3 linked regions of the Homo sapiens genome follow. The protein of the gene in region 3 purifies or fractionates together with the protein of the main gene of each other region. This does not show direct contact. Each region holds a gene or a part of one and is shown on either strand. Other genes may lie near its edges. The genes, in order: RBSN, DNAJC13 and MUSK.

Region 1 (7,112 bases), on a different chromosome or scaffold from region 3:
TTCTGCCCTTCCCACAGAACCTGTCTACACCACATGGCAACTGCCCTTCCTCCTATTGCCTCTGGGCCACCAAAGCTTCCACCCACCTGCTTTCAAGTGGCCAAGGAAGGCCACTTGAAACGAGTTTGTTGCAACACACCCAGGATGACTCTGACTCACACAGGGCCCTAGCTGGGAAATCATAACATGGGCCTTTAACAGGAACTACAAATAATTCAAACGAACAACTTCCCAAAGCATTCTCCAGAATCTGCAGGAGTGTACATAACAAACAGCCAAATCTGCCTAAGAAATTAGACCCAAGACCAGACAGCGCGAATCACCTCGTAGAGCTTCACGATGTCAGGTGTGTGCTCCTTCTCATCAATCTGCTGCTCTCTCTTGAGCAGCGTGTCCTTGCAGTGTGTACAGCAGCGGATCCGGTCATCGTCCTTCTCATCCAGGACCGAGCTGACACTGCTCATGCTGCTGATGCTGCCTCGGCGGGAGCCATGGACACTGTTGGGTGACTGGCTGGGGCTGGTGTGGGTGCTCAGGGACTCCTTGCTGGCACTGGTGAGCTTGTCTGTAACCACAACACCAACAGGCAGCAATGACCCCCACAGCATCCAATTACCATACCCACGACCTCAAGGTGTCAGTCCACAGGTGTTTGATTTGGAGAGTAATAAGATCAGGCTCCAGCTGTGGGCACGTACTGCCCCTCTGCCTTCCTGGTGTCAGACTCTGGTGAGAAAGGACTCCACTGCTGCCCCTCCAAATCCAAACAGCCTTCCCTTTCCACCTGCCACTCTCCTGCATTTGCCCTGTGCCTCCAACACAACAAACATTCTCCCAGGAGACTTTCCTCCACAGCCTTCTCCCTATTCCCAAACATCTGGCTCCTACCCTCTCTGAATGGCAGGTCCTCCAGGAAAGCCTTTTCCAATTCCCTGAGGCAAAAACTATCCATCCTTCCCATCAGTTCCCACCACATTGCCCATTTTGGAGCACTTTCCACTCTTCTCCCTGTGTACAGTTGCATGTACACCCCAGAGCTGCCCTAGGAACCTATGACTCTTTGTGGGTACGAACTGTGTCTTACTCACACTTGTACACTTAACATATCCAGCAGGGCCACCCCACAGCAGCTGCCCAGTAAATGCTGGCTAAAGAGCTCAAGAGAAGAAGGGTGAATAGTGTCCCAAAAAGGCAGCTTATAAAATCTCATGTGAGACAGGGAGTTGGTCTCAGGGAGAAAGTATCAAGGTACAGTGACCTGGTATATGTGAGAGTTGGAAAGAAGAAGCATCTGTTTTTGTCCCCACATTATCCAGACACCCCATGGCCAACAGTGTGCACAGTCAGCAGAACTCTCTAGTGTTGCAAATTTACCCCAAACTTCCCAGAAGCCAATGAGATCATCTTCAGCAACTTCTACTCAGCTTGGTTGCAAAGTCCTGGAGGATCGGGTTCCACCTAAACTTTGTCCTCCACACACCCCCAACTATTCTATTTGCTCATCTATTAACCTACCCTGGGCTTTCCAGAATTCCATGCCTTTGCTCCTACTCTTCACTCTACCTAAAATGTCCTCTTTCTCCATCTCTTTTGCAATCCTACTCATCTTTTAAGGCTCTTCTTGAACATCACCTCCCAGCCCTAAGCATGCATGCTCTCACTGTCCCTGAGCCCACAGCACTCAGCATCTCTCATATTATGATATTAGTCTTTTCTATATGGCAGTGAGTTGTCTGTGACTTATCCCACAGGAAGGGACTAGCCCACTGCTTATATTCAAGACCCTCTTCTCAAAGTCACACTTGCCACTTCCAAGCAGAGCAGACAAAGAGTTGGTCAGCCTCTCCTGAGTTCCTGACAGTCTCTTTCATTGTACATCTCTCTTTAGAAAGCAATTATTTATTTGTGAGTTTATATCCCCTGATAGATGCTAGACTCCTTGGAAGAATGGACAATGCCTTATAGGCTTATAGGCCAGAAATGGGCAAAAAATGACCTGTGAGCCAAGTCCAGCCTCCAGGCTGTTTCTATATGGCTCTCAAACTAAGTATAATTTTCACATTGCTATTTTATTTTATTTATTTATTTTTTTGAGATGGGAGTCTCGCTCGGTCACCCAGGCTGAAGTGCAGTGGCTCAATCTCAGCTCACTGCAGCCTTCACCTCCCAGGTTCAAGCAATTCTCCTGCCTCAGCCTCCTGAGTAGCTAGGACTACAGGCACATGCCACCACGCCAGGCTAATTTTTGTATTTTTATAGAGACAGGGTTTCAACATGTTGGCCACGCTGGTCTCAAACTCCTGACCTCAAGTGATCCGCCTGCCTTGGCCTCTCAAAGTGCTGTGATTACAGGCATGAGCCACTGTGCCCAGTCTAGTGTTCACATTTTTAAAAGGTTGTTTAAAGAAAGAAGAAATGTCACAGCAACCATATGTGGCCCACAAAGCCTAAATGTATTTACTATCTGATCCTTTACAAAGTTTGCCAATCCCTGTTATAGACCACTGTATCCCTGGCCCCTAGCATAGTACCTAGTCTGTAGTGGGTTTCACAGAAACAGCAACTCAATGAATGAAGATTCCCATGAGCCATTAATTTAACAAAAAGGTTCCACGATCCCAGTGGTAATTAGCAAATAAGCTAGGCCCAAAAGAAGATGAGGGTCCAGGGCCCCACCTCCAAGTCACCTACTTGCCAAGGGAAGGCTGATGAGCTCCATACACTTCTTGCACATAATAGACCCGCAGAGGCGGCAGTGGTGGCGGCGGTTCCGGATGCTGAACTTATTCCCACAGTCTGGACAGAAAGGGACATCCTGGTCGTTGACCCAAGGCACCACAGACTTTTCTATTGCTTTGGGAAGAGCAAACCAACAAGAAAGCAGGCCATTTTAAAGAGAGCTTTGGTCAGGGAAAAAAAGATAATAAGATGAATGTGAGCAAAGTTTTAAAGTTACCTCGAATCTTTGCAGACTCAGTATTTGTTCTGTCAAATGCAGTGAGCTGACCGGAAGAAAATAGTGCCAAATGAAATTAACCAGGTGATGTATACATGCTCCACACTTTCCAATACATCAAGTGGGAAATTAGCACATTTGCATTCCTCAAGTCTCATCTGTCATCCCCAACGCCACAAAATCACAAAAACAATTTCACATGGGACAGGGTATTAGTTTTGCATCTAGAACCCACCTCGCTTCCTATAACCCACTTCTAATCTCTTTATTGTCAGTTACCCATTTTAGCAATAACCAGGGGTAGGCAAGGATGGGTAAGGGCAACGACTGAAAGCAACAGAAAACTCTCCATTCTCCACGGTGCTCCTGGACCCTAAAACTGGCCACATATTTCTGCCTTACAAAGTACACATAAAGAACTGTACTTGTGCTTGCTACTATGCCCAGCACACAATCCAGGTTACACACAACAAGCACAACTAGGATGAAAATACACCCGTGAGACCTGGTGACCACTTCTTTGTTTGCCATCACACACTACACCTCACTGGATGATTGTGCCTGGGACACCCAAAAGAAGAATCTGAAGGAAGAAAGGTTTTCCAGCACCTGAGTGGGATTCATAGGTGGGAAAAGGGAAGCTAAGCATGTGGCAAGTTTGTCAACCTGGGCCATTCTCTTAAGGAATGCTGGCCCAGGCTAGAACTGTCCACCATGTCCTTTGCACCTCTCTAGAGAAGGTGTTTCTCTGCCACCATCAGATGTATATGATATATACAACACAGGCTATAGAAATGTGATTATTTTTCCCCAGAAAATGTGTATTTGTAGAAAAAAATGTTTTAAGACAACAAAATTTACCTTCTCTAACCTGATTATTAGTTTATTGACTTCCACAACATAGTGGTCAATTCTAGCAGCTCGGTGTTTTTTGAAGTCGGAAAGATGGCTTCTCACAGCACCTAGAGGGAAGGAAGGTAGGGAGACAAATGACTTATAGTTTCTCTGAGGGAGCCTAGTCTCTACCTTGCCTCTTATCCCAGTGAATTTCAAAAGCAGGTTGGTCAACATAGCGAGACCCCGTCTCTCTCCAAAAAAAAAAAAAAAAAAAAAAATAGTCAGGCATGGGTATGTACGCCTATAATCCCAGCTCCTTGGGAGGCCAAGGCGGGAAGATGGCTTGAGCTCAGGAGCTGGAGGCTTCAGTGAGCTATGATCCCACCACTGTACTCCAGCCTGGGTGACAGAGTGAGACCAACTTCAGAAAGAAAAAAAAATATATTTCAAAAGCAAGTAAAAACTCTAGGATTTTAGAGCCTTACCAAAAATTCAAAAACCAGGAAAGCAAATGGAAGAAAATCTGCTAAATTGTTAACCGCCTTTGGAGGCCACCAAGTACCATATGAGAGACCTGAGAGTAGAGCAGATAAGAGCATGGACTCTGGAGTCAGCCTGTGCTCAAGTTTCAATTCTGCCACACACTGTGTAACCTTGGACACATTACTTAACATCTCTGTAACTCTAAGAGTACTCAACTATCAAATGGAATAATAATGGTATCTACTTCACAGAGTTGTTAACGATGATTAAATAAGTTAAAATTTGTAAAGTCTTAACTGACTCTCATGCCAATGTTAAATAAACAGGGTGGGAACATTATGGGTGATTTAAACATTTTTGAATTATCTTATTGTTTTATACTTTATAAATTTGATACAATATGGTTTTTCCTCAGGATAAGGACAATTCTCAAAATGGCCAAAAAAATGTAAATGCTGGTAGATTCCCTTGTGGGAGATAGTTAAGCTGATACCTTCCTCAGTCCAGCAGCCAAAACCCAGGACAAATGTCTGCAACACAAATAGCTTACTGTCTGAGTAACCTGAAATATCCCCTGCTCAGTCTCACCTGTTCCAGAAACATATTGTCCTCAACCCTCCCGGCACTCAGTGCATGTCCTCTTCCCAATGATCATCTATTCATTTATAGACTATAATGTAACAGAATTTGTCACATGCCATGCTTTTAAAAAATTTTTTAATTGCCAAATAAAAATTGCATATATTCACCGTGTACAACATGATGTTTTGAAATATTTATACACTGGGAAATGGCTAAACAAGCTAATTACCATATGCATTACTTCATATACTTACCACTTTTTGTGGTGACAATACAAAGTCTACTCTCACTGATTTTCAAGAATACGAGATATTTTTATTAACTATAATCAGGCCAGGTGCGGTGGCTCATGCCTGTAATCCCAGCACTTTGGGAGGCTGAGGAGCATGGATCACTTGAGGCCAGGAGTTCAAGACCAGTCTGACCAACATGGTGAAACCCTGTCTCTACTAAAAATACAAAAATTAGCTGGGCATGGTGGTGCACGCCTGTGGTCCCAGCTACTCAGGTGGCTGAGGCACAAGAATTGAACCCAGAGGCAAAGGTTGCAGTGAGCCAAGATCACAGCAGCACACTTGAGCCTGGGTGACAGAGGAAGGCTGTCTCAGAAAAACAAACAAACAAAAAACTATAAATCACCACCTTATACAACAGATCTCTTGACTTATTCCTCCCGGCTGAAATTTTGTATCCTTCGATCAGCATCTCCACATGCTATACTCTTTATTTATTTTTGAGACAGAGTCTCGCTCTGTCGCCCAGACTGGAATGCAGTGGCGAAATCTCCAGGCTCACTGCAATCTCCACCTCCCAGGTTCAAGCAATTCCCATGCCTCAGCCTCCCAAGTAACTTGGATTACACACATGTGCCACCATGCCAGGCTAATTTTTGTATTTTTAGTAGAGACAGGGTCTCACCACATTGGCCAAACTGGTCTCAAATTCCTGGCCTCATGTGATCTACCTGCCTTGGCCTCCCAAAGTGCTGGGTTTACAGGTGAGCCACCGCACCTGGCCACACATGCTATACTCTTAACCATCCACATGTCTTTTCTTCCCTAATCATACTCTAACATCTAATTAAACTTTAATTTAGAATTCTTAGGGGTGACCATAAATATTAACTGCTAAAATTTGCCATTCATTTGACCTACAATTTGTGATTTCAGTTACTGCAACTGGCAACTTAATCAGAAAATCACCCTAGTAATCTCACATTGGCAATCATGAAACAAGGTATCACAAACAAGCTATCATAAATAAATATTAACTTCTAAAATTTGCCATTCACTTGACCTTCTACAATTTGTGACTGTCTTCAGTTGCTGCAACTGGCAACTTAATCAGAAAATCACCCCAGTAATCTCACATGGGCAATCATGAAACAAAGCTAATAAGAATTCATGTGTCCAAAATTTCTCCTTCATGTTTTGGATTGGCTTTCATATGTATCTCATAATTACATATGTATAGTATTATTATTATTTTTTTTTTTTGAGACAGAGTCTCGCTCTGTCACCCAGGCTGGAGTGCAGTGGTGCAATCTCGGCTCACTGTAACCTCTGCCTCCTGGATTCAAGCAATTCTCCTGCCTCAGCCTCCCGAGTAGCTGGAATTACAGGCATGTGCCACCACACCTGGCTAATTTTTTTGTATTTTTAGTAGAGACGGGGTTTCACCATATTGGCCAGGGTGGTCTCAAACTCCTGACCTTGTGATTCAGCTGCCTCGACCTCCCAAAGTGCTGGGATTACAGGCGTGAGCCACTGCGCCCGGCTGTATAGTATTATTTTTAAAGCAATTTTCTCCTGCAATAACAAAAATGTTTCCATTCTCCAATACAGTAGCAAATAGCCACAAGTGGACACAGAACACTTAAAATGTGGTTAGTGTGTGCTACAGGAAGTGACTTTTAATTTTATTTCATTTAAATTTATTTAAACTTAAATAGCCCATGACTGGTGGCTACTGAATGGACAGCACAGTTGTAGGACTTTCCTTATTCAAAGAGACACCTTCTATAACAGCACTAAAAAGATACAGTAGATGAGCCTGGGTAAATTTCGCTTTCCTTCTTGGAGCTCCAGTTTCCTCATCCATAAATGGGAAAAAGGACCACTACTCCACAAGGCTTTTGTGAAAGGTGAACAAGATCATAAACATGAAAATTGAATAAATCACAAGGGAATGATAAATAAATAAAGGAATAATTACCCATTTCATGGACAGAAAATATTTTATTATATTAATGACT
Region 2 (7,112 bases), on a different chromosome or scaffold from region 3:
CCTTGTTTTCAAAAGGCTAACTTCTAGTTAAGCATTTTATTGAATCCAGTTGGAGCTCATGCCAACATTTAATTTTGAAATGCTATAAAAAATTTTTAGTGGGGGTGGCTATAAAGGTTAATCCCAAACTTGTTGGCATTTCTGAAGAGAATGCTTTCAGTCAGCAAAATGTATCACATTGGTGAGCAAAAAGTCCAGGAAAATAACTAACATCAGGAGTGGTCCCTGGTCGTCTAGTGTTTTAGGAAAAATAGTAAAAACAAAAACAAAATTAAAAAAAAAAAAAAAAACCAGTAGCATCTAGAGCTCCTGCCTTTCACACATGGGAACTGAAAAGCATGGCAAGCACTGAAAATTGGACTCAATCACATTGGATTAAAAACAAATAACCTGTTTAAAAGTTGTAAAAATACTTTGGAAACCTGAGGATTTTTTCACTTACAAAAGTCACAGTTCATCCTTAGCGAAAACAAAAGAAAAACTGCCTATAATTATGCCATTCAGGAATAATTACAGTTAACATATGGGTACAAATCTATCAATCCATTTATTTTGTTATACCAAAAATAGGATCTAGTGTCTTCATTTATTTTAATGTCTTTTAGTACTCTTTTTTTTTTTATAATTAAAGGATAATAGTAACCTGTTTAACTGATTTCTATAGTTTATCAAATTCTTTAGTGCTACATTCTCAGATTATTTCTCAATAATCCTTGCAAAAGAAGTTAAAGAGGTTGGGAGATCTATCATGTCATACTGATTTTTGTAATGCATCTATGTATGTACATAGATACATATACATGTATATGTGCATGTATGTATTTACTTTCAGGATTTTAACCCTGTGTCTGAATAAGCTATGGCTTACAATAAATAGCTTGAAATAGACTCTGGGTCTCCTGTCTCCCAGTAGTCTGCCATTGTGAAACACCATTCCAACTTCACTCTCTCGTCCTGTCCCTTTGTGACTCAAGGTTGGTAAGAATTATGATAGGCTCCACAGCTGAGAAACAAAGTTAATTTGCCCTTGCAAAAACTGGACTTGTAGAACTGACATCATTAGCATCAATCCATTATAAAGTGAATTTCTTGCTTGAGAGAACAAACATGTGAACGTTCTTAATTTTTAGGTTCCCTAGATCAATATTATTGTACTACTTTACTGCTTAAAGGATCTTGCACTATTGATTAAAACCCAGGCTACCTGTGAAGCACATACCTCAGTCACACTAGCCACAGCAAGTTTTCTAGCAACATAGGGTGTCAGCATGCCAGCTAAGCTTTTCCTTATGGTTGGATTTTCTGGAGTTGCTTGTTCTTCAGCCAAATACCCTCCAAGGCGACTCAGAGCATGGACACTCAGTTTGGCAAGGCTGTTTGCTACCTCCTGTTATAAAAAAAATTAAGTTGTTAAAGTAGATCTGTTATCTTACATAGGTAATACTATAATTTTACAGAATCACACTATATGGAACATATTTAAGGAGTAAAAAGTCAACCAACAAAAGGGTACAAGAGTACCTACCACTGAGGTAAACATCAGAAAGTTTATGTGTTGGGGCTTGTTTTTTATTTATAAGAAGGACCAGGAGAATCTATGTACTAACTTATACCCAATGCAGTATATCTCACAGACAACTGGAAGAAGCACATTTGGTGGTAATGTGGGGAGTAGGGGATAGGTAGGCAGCCCTGCCTGCTAGAAGCACACATTTACAATATGAGCAATAAATGAGAGCACATAGAAGAGACAGAAAAATATCTATAAAAATCAGACAAGTACTCAAGTGTTTAGGGGAGCTAGCCTCAACTGCCTGATGGTAACATTATATTGTCCTGTGTTACACAACCATAATTTTGCCATCATAAAGTTGACTCTGAGTAATTAAGAAATTATTAAATTATGTCCAGTATATGCTATTGCAAATTCCCTTGCCTGGAATCCTTTAAGCATAAGCAATTACAACTAAAAGTTTTGTAAGTAAGTGATTAGGTTTAAAAAGCAAAAAACCTAATTTTCCTGAAAAACAATTTATCTCTGGGGACTCTGGATAGCAGCTTTGGTTTGGATTAGTTTAACACCAACCTAAGGTTTGGGTTCAAATTCAATATTAAAGCAATGTTAAAGTTACCTGCTGGTTTGTTTCTTCACTTTTCTGAATGCCACTCTCTTCTAGTGTGTAGTCATAATTAAACAGAAAACCAAGGAGATACCACAAAATTCCAGCCTGAAATAGGTGTGTCTGTAGCCAGAAATCCACAGCAAAAGAACTGACACATTCTACCCCAAGAGCAGCTACGCGGGGAATACTCTGAGAGAATAAAAATGAGAGCATTAGTTGTTACAGAGTTAAAAAAAAAAAAAAAAGCTCCCAAGAGGAACTGGTTGTGCATGTATGTCAAGCCAACCACGTTATTTTGTAAAATGTTTACCTCTTCTTACATTTTCAATTCCAATTTAAATCTGAATCCTACATCCTTTAAAGCCTAAAATTAAAAGTGACCTCATGACGAGATACCAGAATTACTACCTTTAAGGCTAATGTCAGAAGACTTGGGAATAGTTTCCTGTTTCACTTCTTGTATTTTTAATTTTTAAAAATAGTGACATGGCATCAATAGCAACTTACACGCTAGTGATCTTAAATGTAACGACATATTTTGTGCAGTTGTTAAAAGATTTATTTATGTCAGTTTTTTATTCTGTAATCAAATACTTCTAAGGACATTAAGTAGATATAGTAGAGGAGATATTTTCATCAATTCCCTCACTTCTTGATACTTTAGTACTAGATCAGCATCTCGATCCTGTTTTATTCAAGACAATTCTCACTCTGCCCAGTTATTTAAGACATTTCTCTCTCCCTCCCAGTCATCTATCTCATCTACCCACAGTCAACCTTCCTCAGCAGGTCTGGATTGGGAGGAAATAGTAAGTTCTCAGATCTCTAAAGCCTTTCCCACCAAGCAGTGCCGAACTCTCTAGTTTTCAGGTTTTACATGGCCCTGTTTTTTTTTCTTTTTTTTTTTTGAGACAGAGTCTCACTCTCTTGCCCAGTCTGGAGTGTAGTGGCACAGGCTACCTCTGAAGCATATATCTCAGTCACACTAGCCACAGAAACATAGGGTGTCAGCATGCCAGCTAAACTTTTCCTTATGGTTGAATTTTCTGGAGTTGCTTGTTCTTCAGCCAAATACTCAGCCTCCCGAATACCTAGGATTACAGGCGCATGCCATCATACCCAGCTAATTTTTGTATTTTTTTGTAGACAGGGTTCTGCAGTGTTGGCCAGGCTGGTCTTGAACTCCTGACCTCAAGTGATCTGCCAACCTCGGCTTGCCAAAGTGCTAGGATTACAGACGTGAGCCACCACACCGGGCTGGCCTTTTGCTTTTAAAAGACTTATTTATTACAGGCTTCTCTTTTCTCCCTGCCACTCATTCTAATGTTCAGATGGAACCCACTTCCCTTTAGATGTATCACTTTAGTCTTTTTCTTTGTAGGCCAGCCTAGAAGCAAAGCCTCCATTTACAGCAAGGCTTCTGTGAAAAATGCTTTTAGAAATCCAAATAATTTTACTTACAAATAACTTTGGGAAAACAATGTGCTTATACATTAGGAACTGGCTAGTTGACAAAAAGACACTTTGCTGTCTGTATCTAGAAAGCATTAAAGATTAACCCTACCTTGCCAAAATATAGTACCCGACAGAGATCCTTGATGATGCTAGGCATTTCCGTGATCTTCTCTCGGCATTCCTCAAACTGAGCAGCCACACTGTAGCATTTACTTATGTATCCACACACCTGCAGACAACACAACAGAGCAAAAAAACCAGTAGAGTCACATAGGCATTCCTTATTTAACACATAGAAATCAAACCAGCAGAAATTTGTGAATAATGCTTAATGGTATATACAATGTTCCAAAATTAAACAGAATGTCTTTACTAGATCACTAGTCTTTCTCATTAAGATTTCCTATAAATGCTGGGGTAGTTGGCAAACCACAGCTACTACAACCCATGGGCCAAACTGACCATGGTCTTTGTACTGCCAAAGAGCTAAGAATGGTTTTTAGATTTTTAAAGGGCTGTAAAAAAGTCACAAAAGAAAATGTAACAGAGACTGTATGAAGCCTGAAAGACTCATATATTTACTCCCTGGACCTTTATTTTAGAAGTTTGCTGGCCTCTGGATTAAGGTAATTTTGTATAGTTTATTAACATAGCAGAATATCACAATTCTGTTTACACAACGGACTTCAAAATAGAGGATGGAACTCAACAGCCAGTACTCGTTTTATATTCTGAATTTTGCTGGCATAAGCAAAAGGTCAAATAGAAAGACACGCTCTACAAAGCTCTTAATGAACTCCTGATGAATTTCCTATCTTACAACCTTAAATGTTAAGCCAATTAAAATACTAGAGATAGGAGAGTGAGGGATGGAAGATATGTGAAACAAGAATGGCATTAAGCTGGGTAATGGAAACATATGGGTTCAATAAACTATTCTCTAAGAAAGAAAACGTAAGCCAACAGATCACAAGTGCTTTAGTACAGTTTCTTACAGTGTGATACACAGACCAGCAGCATCAATGACACTTGGAAACTTGTTATAAAAACATACTCTCAGGCCACCACCCCAGACTCACTGAATCAGAAACTTGGGGTGGGGTGGAGCTCAGCAACCTACAGTTTAATGAGCCCTCCAGTTGATTCTCAGATATGTTAAAGTCTGAACCATTGAACTAGTGCAATTTTCTTGGAACCACAGGTTTTAGCCTCACCTGTACTGACATGTCACTTGGTTTACTAGCACGAGTCAAGACAGCCACACAGCGACTAAATGCCTCTTGTAACACCTGCAGAGGAAGAAGTCAGCTATTAACTCTCCATTTTGACTTCAAGTCTGAAAGGCCTTTTCTAGCAGTAATAAAATATAAATAACCCTTTAATGTTAAATATTTGATACATAAATGTTTGATCAACATTTGTTAATAAATAGTAAACAAAGGACTCCTAAAAGTTTCCTTTTAAGCATTTCTAATAAGCTACTTTGTAAACAATATTACCATTATCGGTTTTGAACCCAATACTTTCCAACTCACATTGTGAAATAAAGCTCCATTTCTACCTTTAATTTGGTATAAGAATATGGAAAATATTGTGTTATCTGCTGAAATAAATTAAAGAATCTGCATTTGTACTTGCTGAATTCTTCACTGCCAAGAGTCATATAATGTGTGTAAACTGGCTTAAAAAGCACAAAGGTCACTCCGTATTACCTCTAGTCCATTCTCTCTTCTGAGCTCTTCAGCATTGAGGGCTGAACAGTTGACAGTATGGAAAGCTAGCTCTGTAGCCGCAGGCAACAATGGTGATTCTTTTGAGAAAAGGAGGTCATCTGAAGTTTCCATTGTTATAGTCCGAATAAGCATGGGGTATCCTGCATATTTATAAGGCTGTAAATCTGAAATAACCAATGGTTAGTGTTAGAAAAACAAAACAAAATTGATTATGTTGTGGTTTCAATTTTGATACCATGTTCAAGAATATGTTGCCTTAAAAAAATAAAAATGGGGCCAGGCATGGTGGCTCATGCCTGTAATCCCAGCACTTTGGGAGGCCAAGGTGGGTGGATCACGAGGTCAGGAGATTGAGACCATCCTGGCTAACACAGTGAAACCCTTTCTCTACTAAAAACACAAAAAAGTTAGCCGGGTGTGGTGGCAGGCACCTGTAGTCCCAGCTACTCGGGAGGCTGAGGCAGGAGAAAGGTGTGAACCCGGGAGGTGGAGCTTGCAGTGAGTGGAGATGGCACCACTGCACTCCAGCCTGGGCGACAGGGCAAGCCTCCGTCTCAAAAAAAATAAAAATAAAATAAAATAAAACGTAAAAAAAAAGATAAAATATTTTATCTTAACATCTTAAATGCCTCCTAATGCCAGTTGATAAAAAAAGAAATTAAACCTACTATAAAATCCCTTGGATCCTTCCTTTCTAGTAAACTTGGTTGATTTTTCTAAAATGTTTCCACTAGAAAAATAACATTTTCTGGTAAATTAACTGCACTTGGTGTATAGTTTTGATCCTTTGCAGAATACCTACTTTCTATGCTGATCTTTGTAACTTTTCACCTCATCACAGAACGCAAGGTACAGCAAATGCACCAGAAATTCTATTAATATCAATTATATGCACATCTTTATAAAGAAAAAAGACTGAGAAGACATTTACATGACACTGAATATTTTATATTAAGTTTTCTGGATAACAAGTGCCCTTGTTTATCTATTTTACCAGTATCTATTTTACCAGTTATCTTAAAGATAACTGGTATCTATTTTACCAGTTATCTTAAAGTTTTACCAGTATTTTCTTAAATTTGAAAATAATACAATTTCTTACTAGAAGTACAAAACAGAAAGTTAACTTTTAAACTACATTTAGTTAATTCCATGTTTTAATAACCAAATTTAAAAGTGAAAGCTAGTAAACCTACATGCCTAATTACTCTGTTCTTTCCATCTTCTTTTTTCAATCTAACCTATTAGGCAAAGAGATGCAAATTAATTGGCTGTGACTTTAAAAGTATCTCTATAATTCCAATTGAAATCAGCATAAATCTTTTTGACTTTTGAGGCTGACCAATAATCTGCCTTAAAACTCATTTCTAAACTGGCTTTTAAAAAAAAGGCCCCCTGGAACAGGTCCTAATTTTCCTTTAAAAAAAAAAAAAGTGACACATACGTAATAAGAAAGAACAGTGAATAACTAAGTCCTGTCAGATCAGGACCTCCACCTCAGAGCTTCTTGGGTATAAACCCCTCTTGGGAAAAGTTAAAGATGACCTTGATAACAGAGAAACCAGGATGGGCCATAACTGTATCTTGTGGCTAATAATTTAGTTATCAGCATTAAAAGACAACCAAGGGTTTTGAAAAAGGTTTCCAAACTCATTCTGATTAGTAAAAGCCATATATCTAAAATGTATTATAAACGTATTCTGTTAAACTCATGTAAAAGTAAATCAACTAATCACTGCTCTCTTTAATAATCCAACTGCTAGATCCTCAGGTTGTCCCCTCCAATACTTAAACTGCAACA
Region 3 (7,519 bases):
AATACTCCCTAATAAAGCATTAAATGTTATTGATGTATGTAGTTAAGCCAATTATCCAGTGGAACATTGGCTACTTTCATAAATGACAGTTTGTGAAATTCTACTACTTGGGTTATGGCACTGAATTCATCATTGAAAATATCACTAGTTGAAATGATTCAGAAAGACAATGATTCTTCCCCTTATCATTGGGCATTAGTAGCCTTAATTAAACTAAAATGAAAACTATGAACAATTAATTCTACAAAGTTGGATATTAATTTTTATCAAAAAATGATGTGCAGAAAGTCAGAAAATAATCCACTGAATACTTTTGTGTTATTTTAAATATGTCAATTTATTAGCTAATACATATTGTACAATTTCCTTTATGCATTCATGATAAAGGACTTAGGAAGAAGTATATTATCTAAAAAACTCTTTTTGTTATTACCGTCTGCCAAGAATAGGGAAAACAGTAGTTTTCTAGAAATAGTAGAAATAGTTTGGGTGGGCCATTTTTATTAGTTTCAGTAGTATAATGGCTGGCGCAGTGGCTCATGCCTGTAATCCCAGCACTTTGGGAGGCCGAGGCAGGCAGATCACGAGGTCAAGAGATGGAGACCATCTTGGCCAACATGGTGAAACCCTGTCTCTACTAAAAATATAAAAATTAGCCGAGTGTGGTGGCTTGCACCTGTAGTCCCAGGTATTTGCGAGTCTGAGGCAGGAGTATAGCTTGAACCTGGGAGGAGGAGGTTGCAGTGAGCTGAGATCACACCACTGCACTGCAGCCTGGCAACAGAACGAGACTCTGTCTCAAATAATAATAATAATAATGAAAATAATAAAATTTTATTGTGGTTCTTTTCTACCAATGTATTCCTCACCCTTCAACATTTAAAATTTTAAGGATTATGCTTTCATGATATTAGTTATTCTCAGAACTGCTGTATGTAGTAAATAAATGTTTGTTCTCCTAGACATGGTATTTTGGCTAAGAGTGATGTTAAACTCATACTAATTTAGATTTTACAGTACAATAGACTGAGAAAAAATTGCTTAAATTTTTTGATTTTAAAACCTAATTCTAGTAGTAAATAAATTATAAGAAATGAAATTGGGTGAATGATCTGGTTAGTTTATTTAAAAGTCAGGGTGTTTGGCTTTGTTATCTCTATGCCACTATATTTCAATATTTTCAAAATAGAGATAGTGTGCATTTGAATTAAGGGCTTTATTTGTAAAGTTTGGAAATGAAAATCAATTCTTTCTAGAATATAAATTAAGACTTATTCAGATAGAGAGATTTTGGGGGTTTTGTGTGTGTGTACAACAAATCCTTATTTGAATCATCAAAATCAATTGTCCTGCTCTTTATAAGACTGTATTTTAGTATTTAACCCTATCATTTTTATGTAACTGCGTGGTTTAGAAATATACAAATAATACTTAAGACAACCCATACGTTCAAACATCCAGGTGGGGCCTTACCGGACATCCGTTGTTTGATCAGGAAGTATTAAAATAATCTGAAGCCAATGTTAAGTCTTTCTGACTATTATTAGCTGTTTGAAAAGATCTAGAGTCTCTTTTATCTGTAGATGCCTTAAAGTATTCATTAGAAATTAAATGTTTAAATACATTTGAAGATACCATTATACTCAAGTAAAATGGAAAAAGAGAAGCAACAAAATGAAACAAAAAAATCTGTGAAATCAGATTGTTTGTGAAGAAACCCGCATCTTATTTGCATGTGAACTTTGACCTTATGGCTCCAGAATTTTTAGTGAACCAGAAAATCTAAAGATACATTTTGCATCTATATACAGATACCACCTTCATTTATCTACACAATACAAACTGTTTCAGTGCTTTGATTAATATAAAGGGAAAATGATTAATTTGAACATGTCCTGAAGCAAAAATCTCTTTTTACTCTATGGTATAACATTAAATTTGAAAACTCTTGTATTGATACCACTCGATCTGCTTTCTCATGTCTTTTTAAAAAAAGATTTCAGTGATACCCTTAGTCACTTTGCAAATCACAGACTTTCCAGTCTTTCTGATTTCAAATACGCTAGTCCCAGTTTCATAATACACTGGCCAGAAACTATATCACTGGACATTCTTGCTACTGCAACAGGTGTTTGTCAGTTTCTTAAGTTGCTTTCCTTTCCCCTGAGGTGGTGTTATTTCCGGTACATTCCAAAGGCTCTGAAAAAAACTTTTGCAGTCTCTTGCCAAGCCAAATCATGACTCCAGCCTCAAAGTTATTTAAAATCCATTGTCTTCCGGGTTTGTTACACAGGCAAATTGTGTACGTCTTTCTGTATTTCCAATTTTTAGCAACTAAAATATTTATTAAGAGTTTGGCAAAGCTAAAACTGAAAATAAAAGTGATTTTTATTCAGAAGCAAATGCTCTGGATGTCTGAGAATGGGGTTGATTCTATTCCTGGCAAACCTGATGCGAAAAGGTTGTCATCATCCACTTAGACCACCCTGAAATTTGACATTCGCATAAACAAAATAGACCTTGATAACTTGCAGTGTACATGCTTATGTTTTGCCCTAGAAGTCAGAGCTCTGCATGCACTATGTGGCTAAGCCTTTTATTGCAGAACTTCGGAGTAAAATATTGGTAGAGAGACCATCAACCAATTGCTTATGTATATAATTTCCTCCCTCATCATACATTTCACCCTTACTTCTTCAAGTAAAACCCAAGCCCACCATACTATAAATCAGTCTTGGTCATATCTCATATACACACACTTTACAACCATGACAAGACAACAAGAAGACACGATTGCTCAAACCAACCTTTTGGAAGTTTCTCAGTTCCGCTGAAGGCAACCAGAGTAAGAATATGTACCAGTGGAATGTTGACGAGCTCTCTCATGATTAATCCAGGCTCACGCAGGACGAAGTTCCTTCTGGACAACGCAAGGAAAATGGCTCCACAGTTTACATTTTAAAGCATACTTTGTTGCAAAAGGGTTGTCTGCTAATGACTGTTTGTGTCAGCAGCTCCACAGGCTCTAAGTATAATCAGGAATTCTCAGACTTGGCTGCAATGATGGACACAGCCAGCTGGTGAGCATCCACGTAGGCCAGTAATGCAAGTGTAGGGCTGGAGGAACAAGGGCAAGAAAATCCCTTTAGAATCCCTTTTAAGACAGTGGCAGAAGGACAATACCAGATGCCTTTTGCAACCATCGCTGTATTCCCAGAGGTATAGGTGTCCTGACCTTCGAATTCAGCACCCCACCTCTCCCGGACTCAAACCAGAAATCTGGGTCTATTCAGTCTTCAGTCCTCCCCATCTCTCACCCCACCCCCACTCCCACATTCAGCCCATTCCAATTCCTACAGATTTTATCAACCAAATAGTCCTTGTACCTTCTCTCTGTCTTGGGTCTTAACCATTCTATATCTTTTTTCAGATAGTCCCTCCTGCTCAAAAGCCTTTAGGGGCTCATCATCACATAAAAATATATTTAAACCTGCCTAATCTGCCTAATATGACAGGCTTTACTGGAATCTGCATGCTTTGTTGTATGTTAGTATTGTCTTTTACGATCCTGTTTTTGTTTTTTGTTTTTTTTTTTTTTCAGAGTCAGGGTCTTGCTCTGTTGCCCAGGCTGGAGTGCAATGGGGTAATCATAGCTCACTGCAACCTCAGCCTCCTGGACTCAAGTGATCCTTTCAGAGTAGCTAGGACTACAGGCACTGCCACTACAGCAGGCTAATTTATTTTTATTTTTTGGAGAGATGTGGTCAGGCTATGTTACCCAGGCTGGTCTCAAACTGCTGGCCTCAAATGATGATTCCACCTCGGCCTCTCAAAGTGCTGGGAATGCAGGCGTGAGCTACTGTGCCCAGCCTCATTCAGCTTCCTTTATTCAACAACCTGCTGATGGTTCCCTGTATACAGCTTTCCTACCTCCATGAATTGCTCATACTGTTTGCTTCTCTTGGAATACTACTCCCCTCCTTTCCACTCAGTTCACACATCTCTCAGCTTGATCATCCTCTCCTCCTGGGAGAAAAATTCCATATCTTCCCAAAGCTGTGTTACGTTTGTCTTCTCTGGGTTTCCATAATATACTGTGCATATCTCTACCATTGCAATGACCATATTGTTTTGATTTTTTCCCCTTTGTGTTGGTGTCTTCTTCATTCTTTGGCCTCGTGAGTTCATTTATAGAACTTTAGAGTCAGGTAGTGTGATGCCGCCAGCTTTGTTCTTTTTGCTTAGGATTGCCTTGGCTATATGGGCTCTTTTTTGGTTCCATATGAAATTTAAAGTAGTTTTTTCTAATTCTGTGAAGAAAGTCAATGGTAGCTTGATGGGGATAGCATTGAATCTATAAATTACCTTGGGCAGTACAGCCATTTTCACAATATTGATTCTTCCTATCATGAGCATGGAATGTTTTTCCATTTATTTGTGTCCTCTTTTATTCCCTTGAGCAGTGGTTTGTAGTTCTCCTTGAAGAGGTCCTTCATATCCCTTGTAAGTTGGATTCCTAGGTATTTTATTCTCTTTGTAGCAATTGTGAATGGGAGTTCACTCATGATTTGGCTCTCTGTTTGTCTGTTATTGGTATATAGGAATCTTGTGATCTTTGCACATTGATTTTGTATCCTGGGACTTTGCTGAAGTTGCTTATCAGCTTAAGGAGATTTGGGGCTGAGATGATGGGGTTTTCTAAATATACAATCATGTCATCTGCAAACAGAGACAATTTGACTTTCTCTCTTCCTATTTGAATACGCTTTATTTCTTTCTCTTGCCTGATTGCCCTGGCCAGAACTTCCAATAGTAGGTTGAATACGAGTGGTGAGAGAGGGCATCCTTGTCTCGTGCCAGTTTTCAAAGGGAATACTTCCAGCTTTTTCTCATTCAGTGTGACATTGGCTGTGGGTTTGTCATAAATAGCTCATTTTTTTTCGATGGGTTCCATCAATACCTAGTTTATTGAGAGTTTTTAGCATAAAGGGGTGTTAAATTTTATTGAAAGCCTTTTCTGCATCTATTGAGATAATCATGTGGTTTTTGTCACTGGTTCTGTTTATGTGATGGATTACATTTATTGATTTGCATATGTTTAACCAGCCTTGCATCCCAGGGATGAAGCCAACTTGATCGTGGTGGGTAAGCTTTTTGATGTGCTGTTGGATTCAGTTTGCCAGTATTTTATTGAGAATTTTCACATCAATATTCATCAGGGATATTGGCCTGAAATTTTCTGTTTTTGGTTGTGCCTCTGCCAGGTTTTGGTATCAGGATGATGCTGGACTCATAAAATTAGTTAGAGAGGATTCCCTCTTTTTCTATTGATTGGAATAGTTTCAGAAGGAATGGTACCAGCTCCTCTTTGTACCTCTGGTAGAATTCGGCTGTGAATCCGTCTGGTCCTGGATTTTTTTTTTTTTTTTTTTTTTTTTGCTCGGTAGGCTATTAATTACTGCCTCAATTTCAGAACTTCTTATTGGTATATTCAGGGATTCAGCTTCTTCCTGGTTTGCCAAAACAGCATGGTACTGGTACCAAAACAGATATATAGACCAATGGAACAGAACAGAGGCCTAAGAAATAATGCCACACATCTACAACCATCTGATCTTTGACAAACCTGACAAAAACAAGCAGTAGGGAAAGGATTCCCTATTTAATAAATGGTGTTGGGAAAACTGGCTAGCCATATGCGGAAAACTGGAACTGGACCCCTTCCTTATATCTCATACAAAAATTAACTCAAGATGGATTAAATACTTAAATGTAAAACCTAAAACCATAAAAACCCTAGAAGAAAACCTAGGCAATACCATTCAGGACATAGGCATGGGCAAAGACTTCATGACTAAAACCCCAAAAGCAATGGCAACAAAAGTCAAAATTGACAAATGGGACCTAATTAAACTAAAGACCATCTGCTCAGCAAAAGGAACTATCATTAGAGTGAGCAGGCAACCTACAGAGTGGGAGAAAATTTTTGCAATCTATCCATCTGACAAAGGGCTAATATCCAGAATCTACAAAGAACTTAAACAAATTTACAAGAAAAAAACAAACAACCCCATCAAAAAGTGGGCGAAGGATATGAACAGACACTTCTCAAAATAAGACATTTATGCAGCCAACAAACATATGAAATAAAGCTCATCATTATTGGTCATTAGAGAAATGCAAATCAAAACCACAATGAGATACCATCTCATGCCTGTTAGAGTGGCAATCATTAAAAAGTCAGGAAGCAACCGATGCTGGAGAGAATGTGGAAAAATAGGAATGCTTTTACACTGTTTGTGGGAGTGTAAATTAGTTCAACCATTGTGGGAGACAGTGTGGCAATTCTTCAAGGATTAGAACCAGAAATACCATTTGACCCAGCAATCTCATTACTGGGTATATACCCAAAGGACTATAAATCATTCTACTATAAAGACACATGCACATATATGTTTATTTCAGCACTATTCACAATGGCAAAGACTTGGAACCAACCCAAATGCCAATCAATGATAGACTAGATAAAGAAAATGTGGCACATATACACTACGGAATACTATGCAGCCATAAAAAACAATGAGTTTATATCCTTTGCAGGGACATGGATGAAGCTGGAAACCATCATTCTCAGCAAACTAATACAGGAACAGAAAACCAAACACCACATGTTCTCACTCATAAGTGGGAGCTAACAATGAGAACACATGGACACAGGGAGGGGAGAATCACATACTGGGGCCTGTCAAGGGGTGGGGGGCTAGGGGAGGGATAGCATTAGGAGAAATGCCTAATGTAGATGATGGGTTGATGGATACAGCAAACCACCATGGCACATGTATACCTGTGTAACAAACCTACACGTTTTGCACATGTATCCCAGAACTTAAAGTATAATAAAAAAATTAAATAAATAAATCAGGTTCTTCTAAAAAAAAGAATAAATATTAATATTGCTGTGTTCTTAATGATTTTCTTTTTGAATAAAAAAGCACATACAATTATGTAGAGTACATAATAGTTGATAATGATAATAAATGACCATGTTGCTGGTTTTTTTAATGTACTATATTTTTATTATTATTTTACTGTGTATACCCTGTACTTATTTAAAAACATAAAAAATAAAAATAAATAAAAAATTGATTGTAAAACAGCCTCAGGCAGGTATTCTAGAAGAATACATTGTTACCATAGGAGATGGCAGCTCCATGTGTGTTATTGCCCCTGAGGACCTTCCAGTAGGACAAGCTGTTGAAAGGCAGTGATGTTTTGATCCTGACCCTGTGTAGGCCAAGGCTATTGTGTGTTTTTGTCTTAGTGTTTAACAAAAAAAGTTTAGAAAGTAAAAAATAAAAATAAAATTTTAAGATAGAAAAGAGCTTAAGGATATGAAGAAAAACTATTTTTGTATAACTGTACAATATATTTGTGTTTCAAACAGAGTATTATTACAAAAGAGTCAAAAAGATTACAAATTTTAAAAGTTTATAAAATAAAATAGTTGTGGTAAGCTAAG

The links.
Region 1: the proteins of MUSK (region 3) and RBSN purify together in Homo sapiens (affinity purification with mass spectrometry; 2 studies listed by BioGRID and IntAct, with this or other methods). This does not show direct contact.
Region 2: the proteins of MUSK (region 3) and DNAJC13 purify together in Homo sapiens (affinity purification with mass spectrometry; 2 studies listed by BioGRID and IntAct, with this or other methods). This does not show direct contact.

What each region holds. Positions count from the first base shown.
Region 1 is NC_000003.12:15,082,044-15,089,155, forward strand, and holds part of RBSN (rabenosyn-5), read right to left. Parts: intron 3,919-7,112; coding exon 3,818-3,918; intron 3,003-3,817; coding exon 2,957-3,002; intron 2,854-2,956; coding exon 2,692-2,853; intron 566-2,691; coding exon 324-565; intron 1-323. UniProt on the Homo sapiens protein: Rab4/Rab5 effector protein acting in early endocytic membrane fusion and membrane trafficking of recycling endosomes. Required for endosome fusion either homotypically or with clathrin coated vesicles.
Region 2 is NC_000003.12:132,497,489-132,504,600, reverse strand, and holds part of DNAJC13 (dnaJ homolog subfamily C member 13), read right to left. Parts: intron 5,476-7,112; coding exon 5,291-5,475; intron 4,868-5,290; coding exon 4,793-4,867; intron 3,808-4,792; coding exon 3,688-3,807; intron 2,313-3,687; coding exon 2,133-2,312; intron 1,388-2,132; coding exon 1,220-1,387; intron 1-1,219.
Region 3 is NC_000009.12:110,664,272-110,671,790, reverse strand, and holds the start of MUSK (muscle, skeletal receptor tyrosine-protein kinase isoform 1 precursor), read right to left. Parts: upstream 3,001-7,519; 5' UTR 2,887-3,000; coding exon 2,808-2,886; intron 1-2,807.